2 separate regions of the Homo sapiens genome follow, and region 2 is linked to region 1. A link means that fine-mapping ties the variant in region 1 to the expression of a gene that starts in the linked region. Tissue or cell type: iPS cells. Region 1 holds a variant in brackets; the other region holds the start of a gene. All regions are shown on one strand. Distances are from middle to middle.

Region 1 (5,000 bases):
TCCTCTCTTACTTCCTTGAGCAGTGGTTTGTAGTTCTCCTTGAAGAGGTCCTTCACATCCCTTATAAACTGTATTCCTAGGTATTTTATTCTCTTTGTAGCAATTGTGAATGGGGGTTCATTCATGATTTGGCTCTCTGCTTGTCCATTGCTGGCGTATAGGAATGCTTGTGATTTCTGCACATTGATTTTGTATCCTGAGACTTTGCTAAAGTTTCTTATCAACGTAAGGGGTTTTGGGGCTGAGACGATGGCATTTTCTAAATATAGAATCATGCCATCTGCAAGAGACAATTTGACTTCCTCTCTTTCTATCTGAATACCCTGTATTTCTTTCTCTTGCCTGATTGCCCTGGCCAGAACTTCCAATATTATGTTGAATAGAAGTGATGGGAGAGGGCATCCTTGTCTTGTGCCAGTTTTCAAAGGGAATGTTTCCAGCTTTTGCCCACTGATATTGGCTATGGGTTTGTCATAAATAGCTCTTATTATTGAGATATGTTTGATGAATACCTAGTTTATTGAGAGTTTTTAAATGAAGGGATGCTGAATTTTATCGAAGGTCTTTTCTGCATCTACTGAAATAATCATGTGGTTTTCGTCACTGGTTCTGTTTATATGACGGATTATGTTTACTGATTTGCATATGTTGAATCAGCCTTGCATCCCAGGGATGAAGCCAACTTGATCATGGTGGATAAGCTTTTTGATGTGCTGCTGGATTTGGTTTGCCAGCATTTTATTGAGAATTTTTCGCACCGATGTTCATCAGGGATATTGGCCTGAAATTTTCTTTTTTTGTGTCTCTGCCAGGTTTTGGTATCAGGATGATGCCGGCCTCATAAAATGAGCTAGGGAGGAGTTCCTCCTTTTCAATTGTTATGAAATAGTTTCAGAAGGAATGGTATCAGCTCCTCTTTGTACCTCTGGTAGAATTTGGCTGTGAATCCATCTGGTCCTGGGCTTTTTGTGGTTGGTAGGCTATTAATTACTGCCTCAATTTCAGAATTTGTTATTGGTCTATTCAGACATTCCACTTCTTCCTGATTTAGTCTTGGGAAGGTGTATGTGTCCAGGAATTTATCCGTTTCTTCTAGATTTTCTAGTTTATTTGTGTAGAGGTCTTTATAGTATTCTCTGATAGTAATTTGTATATTTCTGTGGGGTCAATGGTGATATCCCCTTTATCATTTTTTATTGTGTCTATTTGATTCTTCTCTCTTTTCTTCTTTAGTTTAGCTAGAGGTATTTTTTGTTAATTTTTTCAAAAAATCCAGCTCCTGGATTCACTGATTTTTTGAAGGGTTTTTTTGTGTTTCTATCTCCTTCAGTTCTGCTCTGATCTTAGTTATTTCTTGTTTTCTGCTAGCTTTTGGATTTGTTTGCTCTTGCTTCTCTATTTCCTTGTTGTTGTTTTTGTTTGTTTGTTTTGAGACAGAGTTTCACTCTTCTTGCCCAGGCTGGAGTGCAATGGCGCAATCTCAGCTCACCACAACCTCCACCTCCCGGGTTCAAGTGATTCTCCTACCTCGGCCTCCCAAGTAGCTGGGATTACAGGCATGTGCCACCACACCCAGCCAATTTTGTATTTTTAGTAGAGATGGGGTTTCTCCATGTTGGTCAGGCTCATCTCAAACTCCTGACCTCAGGTGATCTACCCGCCTCAGCCTCCCAAAGTGCTGGGATTACAGGCATGAGTCACCACGCCCAGCCGCTTCTCTAGTTCTTTTAATTGTGATGTCAGGATGTTGATCTGAGATCTTTCCAGCTTTTCGATGTGGGCATTTAGTGCTATAAACTTCCCTCTTAACACTGCTTTAGCTGTGTCCCAGAGATTCTGGTACATTGTCTCTCTGTTCTCATTGGTTTCAAAGAACTTCTTGATTTCTGCCTTAATTTCTTTATTTACCCAGGAGTTATTCAGGAACAGGTTGTTTAACTTTCCTGTAGTTGCCTTTTTTATTTGTTTTAAATTGAGACAAGGTCTCAGTCTGTCACCCAGGCAGGAGTGCAGTGGCGTGATCAGGGTTCACTGCAGCCTCGACCTCCCAGGCTCAAGTGATCCTCCCACCGCAGCCTTCTGGATAACTGGGACCACAGGCTGCCACCATGGCCAGCTAAGTTTTTTAAATTTTTTATAGAAACGGGGTCTCGCTTGGTTGCCTAGGCTGATTTGAAACTCTTGGGCTCAAGCAATCCTCCCATCTACAGTAATTTTAGGCCTCCCAAAGTGTTCAGACTGCAGATGTGAGACACAGCGCCCAGCCTCTTTAAATGTCACTTCATTTTCAACCTTTCTTTTTCATATTATTTTATGTATACTTCTTATATTCAGCATAAACCTGGGTTTTTTTTTT[TTTTA/A]CTTAACCCAATCTCAGAGGATCTACAGCAAGCTTGTCCAGTCCACAGCCCACGGGCAGCATGCAGCCCAGGACGGCTCTGAATGCAGCCGAACACAAATTTGTAGACTTTCTTTTATGAGATCTTTTTTGCAATTTTTTTTGTTTTAGCTCATCAGCTATTGTTAGTGTTGGTGTATTTTATGTGTGGCCCAAGACAACTCTTCTTCTTCCAGTGAGGCTCAGGGAAGCCAAAAGATTGGACACCCCTGATCTAGAGGAAGGAATAATTTAGTTTATTATTTAATGAAACAACTCACATATTTGACTTTATTCTTTCACTCTCATGTTTATCATTCAGATACTTTTCCATGAATGTATATTTTTTGCCCACACTGCTTGTAATTTTTCCCACCCCAAATGGAATATAAGCATCTTCCATTATCTTTTTTTTTTTTTTTTGAGACGGAGTCTCTCTGTCGCCCAGGCTGGAGTGCAGTGGTGCGATCTTGGCTCACTGCAAGCTCCGCCTCCTGGGTTCAGTCTCCTGAGTAAGTGGGACTACAGGCATCCGTCACCACGCCCGGCTAATTTTTTTGTATTTTTAATAGAGATGGGGTTTCACCGTGTTAGCCAGGATGGTCTCTATCTCCTGACCTCGTGATCCGCCTGCCTCGGCCCCTCAAAGTGCTGGGATTACTGATGTGAGCCACTGTGCCCGGCCCATCGTTCATTATCTACACAGCTTTTCCTGCTTAAGTAGCATCCAATTATATGACTGTACATTTTAAATTTGAACAATCCTCTACTAGTTGTCCTACATTTTTCTAATGTAAATACAACCATAGGCCGTCCAGTCATACAAGTCACATACTTGGAAGTCATCTTTCACACTTCCTTGTCCTTCATCTCCATAACCAACTTATCACCAAATCCTGTTAATTTTACTTCCTACATCACACTCATCTTCCATCTCTCCTGCTATCATTCTACTTCAAAGTACCATGAATCTGAAATGGTCTCCTGTTCTGCCCACATCAACTTTGCTCCCATACCCATCCATCTTCTTCAGTACTGTTAGAACAAAGACTACAAAGTGGATAATGTCACTAAAAACCATTCAATGGTTTCCTATTACATTTAGGATAAAATCCAAAATACAAACCTCAAGGCCCTGATCTGTGGATCAGGTACACTTCATGCCACTGTCTTCTTAACTCTCTGCATTTCAGCTACACTAGCCTTTTCCCATTCTTCTACCAGATACTTATTCCTTCTGCCTATGTTTCACATACCCCTATTCTCCATTTACCTAGTTAACTTGTATTCATCTTTGATATTTCTGCTTAAATATTACTTCCTATGAGAAACATTCCCTTACCCTCAGGCTAGGTTAACCAAACCTGCATTCCAATACACTCCTGTAGTACTTTTCTTTTGTACCCACTAAACAAATAATTACACCACCAAAAATATAAATACAAACTGTGGTAGGTGCTGTCTCCACCACTAGACTGCAGACTTTGTGAAAGCAAAAACTGTCTCTAATATTGTTTTACTTACCTCTTTATTTCTTGATTTACTATAATGTCTGGCACTATGATACTGTAAAATAATAAATTTGGTCTTTGACCTCATTTCCTGGCATACAACTCCCTAAAGTCCTTGGAATTTCTGATGTCTTTTTTTCTTTTTTTTTAGAAAGTCTTGCTCTGTCACCCAGGCTGGAGTGCAGTGGTGCAATCTCGGCTCACAGCAACCTCCACCTCCTGGGTTCAAACGATTCTCCTGTCTCAGCCTCCCAAGTAGCTGGGACTACAGGCACATGCCACCATACCCAGCTAATTTTTGTATTTTCAGTAGAGACAGGGTTCCACCATGTTGGCCAGGCTGATCTTGAACTCCTGACCTCAAGTGATCTGCCTGCCTCAGACTTCCAAAGTGCTGGGATTACGGGGACATGACCCAGGCCCAAAGTGATGTCTTTTTGTATGTTGATGATTAACTGATGGCTGGCAGCTGCTAGGTGGCTTTAGGATAAGAGCAAGGCAGAATTAGAGGATTGTGACTTTCAGCCCCACCCAACCCCCCAACCACCAGGGAGAGAAGAGAAGCTAAAGGTTAACCAATGGTCACTGGTTTAGTCAATCGCCTATGTAATGAAGCCTCCATAAAAACTGACTGCACTGGGAGAGCTTCTGGATACTAAATATGTGGAGGTTCCTGGAGGGTGATGTGCCTGTGGAGGTCCTAGAGAATCCCTGTGCCCACTCCCCTACATCTCTTCCCATGCATCTCTTCATCTGAATCCTTTGTAATATCCTATATAATAAACTGCTAAATGTAGGTAAGAACTTCCCAGAATTCTGTGAACCGCTCCGGCAAATTAATCAAATTCAAGGAGGGCGGCATGGGAACCCTCACTTGAAGTCTGTTGGTCAGAAGTTTCAGAAGCCTGGACTTGCAACTGGTGTCTGAAGTGGGTGGGGGGCACTCTTGAGGCATGAGCCCTCAAACTATGGGACGTGGCACTGTCTCCAGGTAGACAGGTCGGAATTGAATTAGAGGGCATCCAGCCAGTGGTCGCTGCAGAACTGCTTGCTTGCTTGCTTTGGTCACAGAAGTCTTCTGTGCTGACTACTGTTGTGGTGTGACAGCAAAG
Region 2 (6,803 bases), 40 kb after region 1:
AACCTTCAATTTTTGCCAGCTCCCTAGAGCTGCTTTGTTTCAATGTTAACTCTGCAGTATCAGTTTAGATTGAAACTGTAACCCTGGGTTCATACTAACCCTTCACATGTACCTCTACTTGTCTCCTGTCAGAATGTGAAATTCAACAACAACTAAAACTTCAGAATTAAGGTATTCCAGACACAAAAATAAAATTTTAGAGATTCAGCTATTTGGTTTCTCAGATACATACCAGGTCTCTCTAGACTCTGAATGTATTAGACAACCTATGTGTTACCATCACTTGTTTTTTGTTTTTTTTTCTGAGACAGAGTCTCACCCTGTTGCCAAAGCTGGAATGCAATGGTGCAACCTCGGCTCACTGCAACCTCTACCTCATGGGTTCAAACGATTCTCCTGCCTCAGCCTCCCGAGTAGCTGGGATTATAGGCGCCCGCCACCATGCCCAGCTAATTTTTTTGTATTTTCAGTACAGACGGAGTTTCACCATGTTGGCCAGGCTGTTCTCTAACTCCTGACTCGTGATCCACCCGCCTCGGCCTCCCAAAGTGCTGGGATTACAGGCATGAGCCACCGCACCAAGCCAACATGACTTTTTAAATCACTGACTTTAGGATATCCTTTGTCATCTGGTTGTAGAAAATCAACATGCTGCTGACCGGATACAGTGGCTCACACCTGTAATCCCCGCGCTTTGGGAGGCTGAGACGGAGAGATCACTTGAGGTCAGGAGTTCAAGACCAGCCTGGCCAACATGGTGAAACCCCATCTCTACTAAAAATACAAAAATTAGCCGGGCGTGGTGGTGGGCGCTTGTAATCCCAGCTACTTGGGAGGCTGAGACAGGACAATCACTTGAACCCGGGAGGCGGAAGTTGCAGTGAGCAGAGATCAAGCTGTTGCCCTCCAGCCTGCACAAGAGTGAAACTCTGTCTCAAAAGAAAAAAAAAGAAAATCAACATGCTATAAACATGATCATTTTAGAGAAAAAATAATTTAGTATATTTGGAGAATCTGTGATGTAGGGTCCATTTCCGGCTCTACTAATAATAGAGTAGGAATTGCTAAAGCAATAAGAAGGCTACCAAAGAATAATTGGAGAATGAATATATTTCCCTAAAAGAGAAAGTTCAACGCAGCCTGATGGCCTATTTACCTTAATTTTGAAAATATTACCCACGCCCAAAAAAAGTCACAAGGGTTTCACCATAATAGGTAAGAAAAATACATGTAAAGCACTGTGACCACCTTACCAGTTGACCCTTTCTGAGCGTCTACCAAATTCTTTAAATCAGTGACAGAGTACAATCTAACCAAGAAAAGAAAAAGGAACTAAAAATTCGCAAAGACATGCTTAATATCGCAAATGCCAAGGTGATCTACTTCAATCAGATGTTTGGCAACTAGAGAAGCACAGAACCCCGTTCTCAAACTGAGCTCCATAGGAAGCTGGCTAATAACACAAAGTAAATGGCCATGCATGCCAGGATGAAGGAGGCAGAAAGGCAGGCCTGTGTATAGAGCACTGGGTTTATGACAAGCTAGAATAAAAGCAAAATATTGTTAAATTTCAATTTTTCTATGATTTTTGAAGGATTCACATAATGGCCTACCAAAAAAAAAAAAAAAGGCTGATTTAGAAAGTAATATAGCCCAGGCGCAGTGACTCACTCCTGTAATCCCAGCACCTTTTTTTTTTTTTTTTTTTTTTTTTGAGACGGAGTTTTGCTCTTGTTGCCCAGGCTGGAGTGTAATGGCACTATCTCAGCTCACCACAACCTCGCCTCCCGGGTTCAAGCTAGTCTCCTGCCTCAGCCTTCCGAGTAGCTGGGATTACAGGCATGCGCCACCACGCCTGGCTAATTTTGTATTTTTAGTAGAGATGGGGTTTCACCATGTTGGTTAGGCTGATCTCGAACTCCCGACCTCAGGTGATCTGCCCGCCTCGGCCTCCCAAAGTGCTGGGATTACAGGCGTCAACCACCGCGCCCGGCTGATCCCAGCACTTTTGAGAGGCGGAAGCAGGTAGATCACTTGAGGTCAGGAGGTCGAGACCAGCCTGGCCAACATGGTGAAACCCCATGTCTACTAAAAATACAAAAATTAGCCGGGCGCGATGGCGGGCACCTGTAATCCCAGCTACTCTGGAGGCTGAGGCAGGAGAATCGCTTGAACCTGGGAGGAGGAGGTTGCAGTGAGCTGAAAAGATCGCGCCACTGCACTCCAGGCTGGGTGTCAGAGTGAGACCCTGTCCCCCCTCCAAAAAAAAATTGTGAGCCCAGGTGTAAATGAAGCCCCCCTCCCCAGCACCCTCCTCTACATACCAAGCTTTTCTCCTAGAAAAGATGCACTGGGAAAAAGCTATCTTGAGTAAAGATCAAAACTGATATAAGCCATCCCTCATATACCAATAATATGCCATCAATAAGCGTGAGACATGTGGATGGCTAGGAGAGAGTCTGGTTTCTTCCTGATGCTGCCCACCCAAAACAGAGACTGCAGTTAGGCTCTGACCACACGAGCGCCTGGCATCTCTAGGCAACCTTTTCCATACCAAGCTTAGTTATTCCGGGCAAAATGCAAAAAAAAAACATAAGTAGGAACCTATCATGAAGTGTCCTGGATATTCTTAAATTAAATTTAACCAGATTCTCAAAACATTTCATAACTAACGTCTGCTTTCTTCATTTAATTCTCCAAACATTATAATTTACATTGGTAGAAGAAAGTCCCACTTTACCTGCGGTGAAAAAGGTCGAAATGTCTATCTAGCATGAGATGAAAAACACTACCAGAGAGCAGGGTAGGATTTCACCTCGGCTATTCTCGCTCTAAGTCCAAAACTCCCACATCCTCTCCGCATCCCTCCACCCCGACAGAGTGGCCACAGGGCGTAGAGCGGAGGCTGATACCGCTCAGAGCAGACCGAAGGGAAAAGACGTCTCCCACCGCGCTCATGCCCAACCGGGCTCTCTGGAAAAGGGTCCCGGGGAGCGCGAGGAAAGAAACGAAGGCCGGAAGGAGGCAGAGCGGTCTAAGCAAATAAAAACCCCGGACTTCCACGGCGGCCGGAGCTGGAGGCCTGTGACAGCGGCTCCTCCTCTCAGAGCTTTCCCGGCTTCAGGAGGAGCTGGGGGGCGCCAGCTTCCCGGTGCCTGCGACGCACAGCCCGGCTGGAGCGAGAGCGCAGGGCAGCGGCCCCTCGGGACGAGCTCGCTCGCCTCCCCCGGAAAGGGAGGCTGTGGCCGAGACGGACGGCGGCCTCCAGCTCGGGCGGGGGAGGGCGGCTCGAGGCCTCCGGACCGGGCGCTGAGGTGGCGCACCGGCGCGGGAATGGCCCCAGCCAGCCCCGCCAGGCGATCGCTGAGTCCGTCACTCGTCTGCCCGCGTCCCCGCTTACCTGCTACCCTCGTTCCTGGCAGCTGCCCCGCCGCCGGCCCCGTCGCGGCAGCAGCCTGGACCGCGGACCCCGCCTTCGTCAGCTCCAAGGGAAGCCCCGCCAGCGACGAGGCGTCCGGCCTGTTCGCCGCGGCCACAGCCGCCGAGCTTCCTCTGAAGCGGCTGCCGCGACGCCGGCGCTGGCCTATCGCGTCACCTCCTCCGCGCCCTTCCGCCTGCGAGGCTGGGCCTGGCACCGCCCGCTTCCGGCGCTCCCGCCCCGCCTCCCGACCCGGGGCCGCCCCGCCCCCGCCCGTCACCGCGTCCTTAGCCCCGGCCTCCCTCAGAACGCGCTGGGATGGGAACCGCGTTCAGGAGCTGCTAAGCGCGTTTGAGACTTCAGCCCCTTCTCCAGCTTTTAACCTAAAAGGGCTAAATCAGACCGCAGCTAGTGTACACCCCTACCCTCCGCTGATCCCGTCACCCCTGCGCCGAAAGCAAAAGACCCATTCCAGCTCTGGACGTTGTGAGGCCTGGCCCAGGCGTCCGCTCTCTGGTTTTCCTATTGATCTTACCCCTGGTATTGTGATTGGCCTCTTTATCTATGTCTTACCCGCCCCAACTGTGAATGCTTTCCAAAATTATAAGCCGATGTCCTGACAGGCAAAAACATAATAATAGCAGATTTATGGCGGAAGATGAGTTCAGTTTTGAACATACTCGATCTGGAAGAATAAAGTGGAGGTGACTGCAATGGAAAACCAACAGTGCGTTGCTGAGAGCCTGTGTAGGCAGTAAGGATATGCATTGATGGTGGAGAAGATAAAAACAATACCGAAGCCAACTGCAGGATGGTTTGCTTTTAATTATCATCATGTGTCAGAAAATTCTAAACAATGTTAATGAAAAAGTACTCCTTTCCAAACAAAAGCTTTGTTTAGTCTTAGTTCTAAGCAATGGCTGCAATTACTGTTGATTTTTTTTTCTTTTTTCTTTTCTTTTTTTTTTTTTTCCAAACAGGGTCTTGCTGTCTCGCCCAAGCCGGAGTGCCGTGGCACACCCTAGGCTCGCTGTAACCTCTGCCTCCTGGGCTCAAGCGATCCTCCCACCTCATCTTCCAGGGTACCTGCGACCACAGGCTCCTGCACCACGCCCGGCTAATTTTTTATTACTATTACTATCATTATTTTTGTAGCGATGACATCTCCCTATGTTGCCCAGGCTGGTCTTGAACCCCTGAGCTCAAGTGATCCTCCCACCTGGGCCTCCCACAGTGCTCGAATTACAGGCGTGAACCACCACACCAGGCCCTCTCACTTCTTTTTAACAGTTTCTCTTTGTCAGTGATTTTTTTTTTTTTTTTAGAGGAGTGTCGCTCTGTCGCCCAGGCTGCAGTGCAGTGGCGCCATCTCGGCTCACTGCAAGCTCTGCCTCCCGGGTTCACGCCATTCTCCTGCCTCAGCCTCCTGAGTAGCTGGGACTACAGGCGTCCACCACCACGCTTGGCTAATTTTTTTTGTATTTCTTTAGTAGAGACCGGGTTTCACCAAGTTAGCCAGGATAATCTCGATCTCCTGACCTCGTGATCTGCCCGCCTCAGCCCCCCAAAGTGCTGGGATTACAGGCGTGAGCCACCGCACCCAGCCTGTTAGTGATTTTTAGCCATTTATTTTGTGCCCTATCTTTGTTTTCTTTGTATTTATCTGTCTTGGATATCATTGAGTTTCTCTGATTTGTGGGTAGATGTCTTGCATCAGTTTTGAGAAATTCTCAATCATTATCTCTTCAGATATGGTTTTTGCTGCATTCTCTATGCCTGTTCTCCGAGACACCAATTACATATGTAAGATTATTATTATTATTATTGAGACAGAGTTTCACTCTTTTTGCTCAAGCTGGAGTGCAGTGGCGCAATCTCGTCTCACTGCAACCTCTGCCTCTGCCTCCCGGGTTCAAGCGATAATCCTGCCTCAGCAGTATTATCTACTGAGGTAGATAATACTATTATAATAGTATTATTATCGAGTAGCCAGAATTACAAGCGCCCACCACCACGCCCGGCTAATTTTTGTATTTTTAGTAGAGATAGGGTTTCACCATGTTGGTCAGGCCGGTCTTCAACTCCTGACCTCCGGTGATCCACCTGCCTCAGCCTCCCAAAGTGCTGGGATTACAGGCATGAGCCACGGCACCCAGCCCATATGTAAGATTATTTGATCTTGTTCACCGTGTCTTTTACACTTTGTGATGTCAATTTTTTTTTCAATTATTCAGTTTGAAGGTTTTCTGTTTTTCAGGTTATTGAGTCTATCTTCTATAATCTCCAATCTGCTGTTAAATCTATACATTGAGTTCTTAATTTTAAATATTAGATTTTCAGGTTTTGTTTTTTTTTGTTGTTGTTGTTTGTTTTTTTTTTTTGAGGCCAAGCTTCGCCCTTGTTGCCCAGGCTGGAGTACAATGGCGCAATCTCGGCTCACTGCAACCTCTGCCTCCCAGGTTCAAGTGATTCTGCCTCAGCCTCCCAAGTAGCTGGTATTACAGGTGACCGCCACCACACCCAGCTAATTTTTGTATTTTTAGAAGAGATAGAGTTTCACCATGTTGGCCAGGCTGGTCTCAAACCCCTGACCTCGTGATCCACCCATCTCAGCCTTCCAAAGTGCTGGGATTACAGGCGTGAGCCACTGCATCTGGCCTGTTGTTACCATCCTTATATCCACGAATACTCATTATTTAGCTTCTACTTATAACTGAGAGCATGTAGCATTTGGATTTTTGTTCCTGCATTATTTCACTTAGGATAACAGCCTCAAGCTACATTCATATTTCAGCAAAAGACATGACTTCATACTTTTTATGGCTGTGAAGTATTCCATAGCGTGTTTGTACATTTTCTTTATCCAGTCCACCATCGATGGGCACCGAGGTTGACTCCATGTCATTGCTATTGTGAACAGTGCTGCAATGAACATACAAATGCATGTGTTTTTTTGGTAGGATAATTTATTTTCTTTTGGATGTATACCCAGTAATGGGATTGCTGGATCAAATGGTAGTTCTGTTTTAAGTTATTTAAGAAATCTCCAGGCCGGGCACAGTGGATCACGCCTGTAATCCCAGCACTTTGGGAGGCCGAGTGGAGCAGATCACCTTAGGTCAGGAGTTTGAGACCAGCCTGGCCAACATGGTGAAACCCTGTCTCTACTAAAAACACAAAAATTAGCTGGGTGTGGTGGTGGGTGACCGTAATCCCAGCTACTCTGGAGGCTGAGGCAGGAGAATTGCCTGACCCTGGGAGGCAGAAGTTGCAGTGAGCCGAGATCGTACCACTGCACTCCAGCATGCGTGACAGAGCAAGACTCTGTCTTGAAGAAAAAAAAAAGAAAAGAAATCTCCAAACTGCTTTCCACAGTAACTGAACT

Which allele goes with the higher level. Positions count from the first base shown, and alleles are read on the strand shown. Sizes are in standard deviations (SD) of each study's normalised expression.
As copies of TTTTA replace A in region 1, the expression in iPS cells of the gene that starts at base 3,554 in region 2 goes down (moderate effect, 0.44 SD a copy in HipSci).

What was found. PIP is the estimated chance that this variant, and not a neighbour inherited with it, causes the effect.
Region 2: it holds the start of SENP5, and the variant in region 1 is fine-mapped to the expression of SENP5 in iPS cells (HipSci, PIP 0.93).

The regions. Positions count from the first base shown.
Region 1 is chr3:196,905,254-196,910,253 of GRCh38, reverse strand. All of the region lies in intron 6 of SENP5 (SUMO specific peptidase 5), which reads right to left. Among named protein-coding and RNA genes, the nearest start is that of NCBP2-AS1, 32 kb to the left of the region's middle. The variant TTTTA/A (reference allele first, on the strand shown) is at 2,357.
Region 2 is chr3:196,864,671-196,871,473 of GRCh38, reverse strand. It overlaps SENP5 (SUMO specific peptidase 5), which reads right to left and starts at 3,554. Exons shown (of 10, transcript NM_152699.5): 1 at 3,401-3,554. RefSeq lists an enhancer at 2,045-2,546 and a silencer at 3,198-3,777.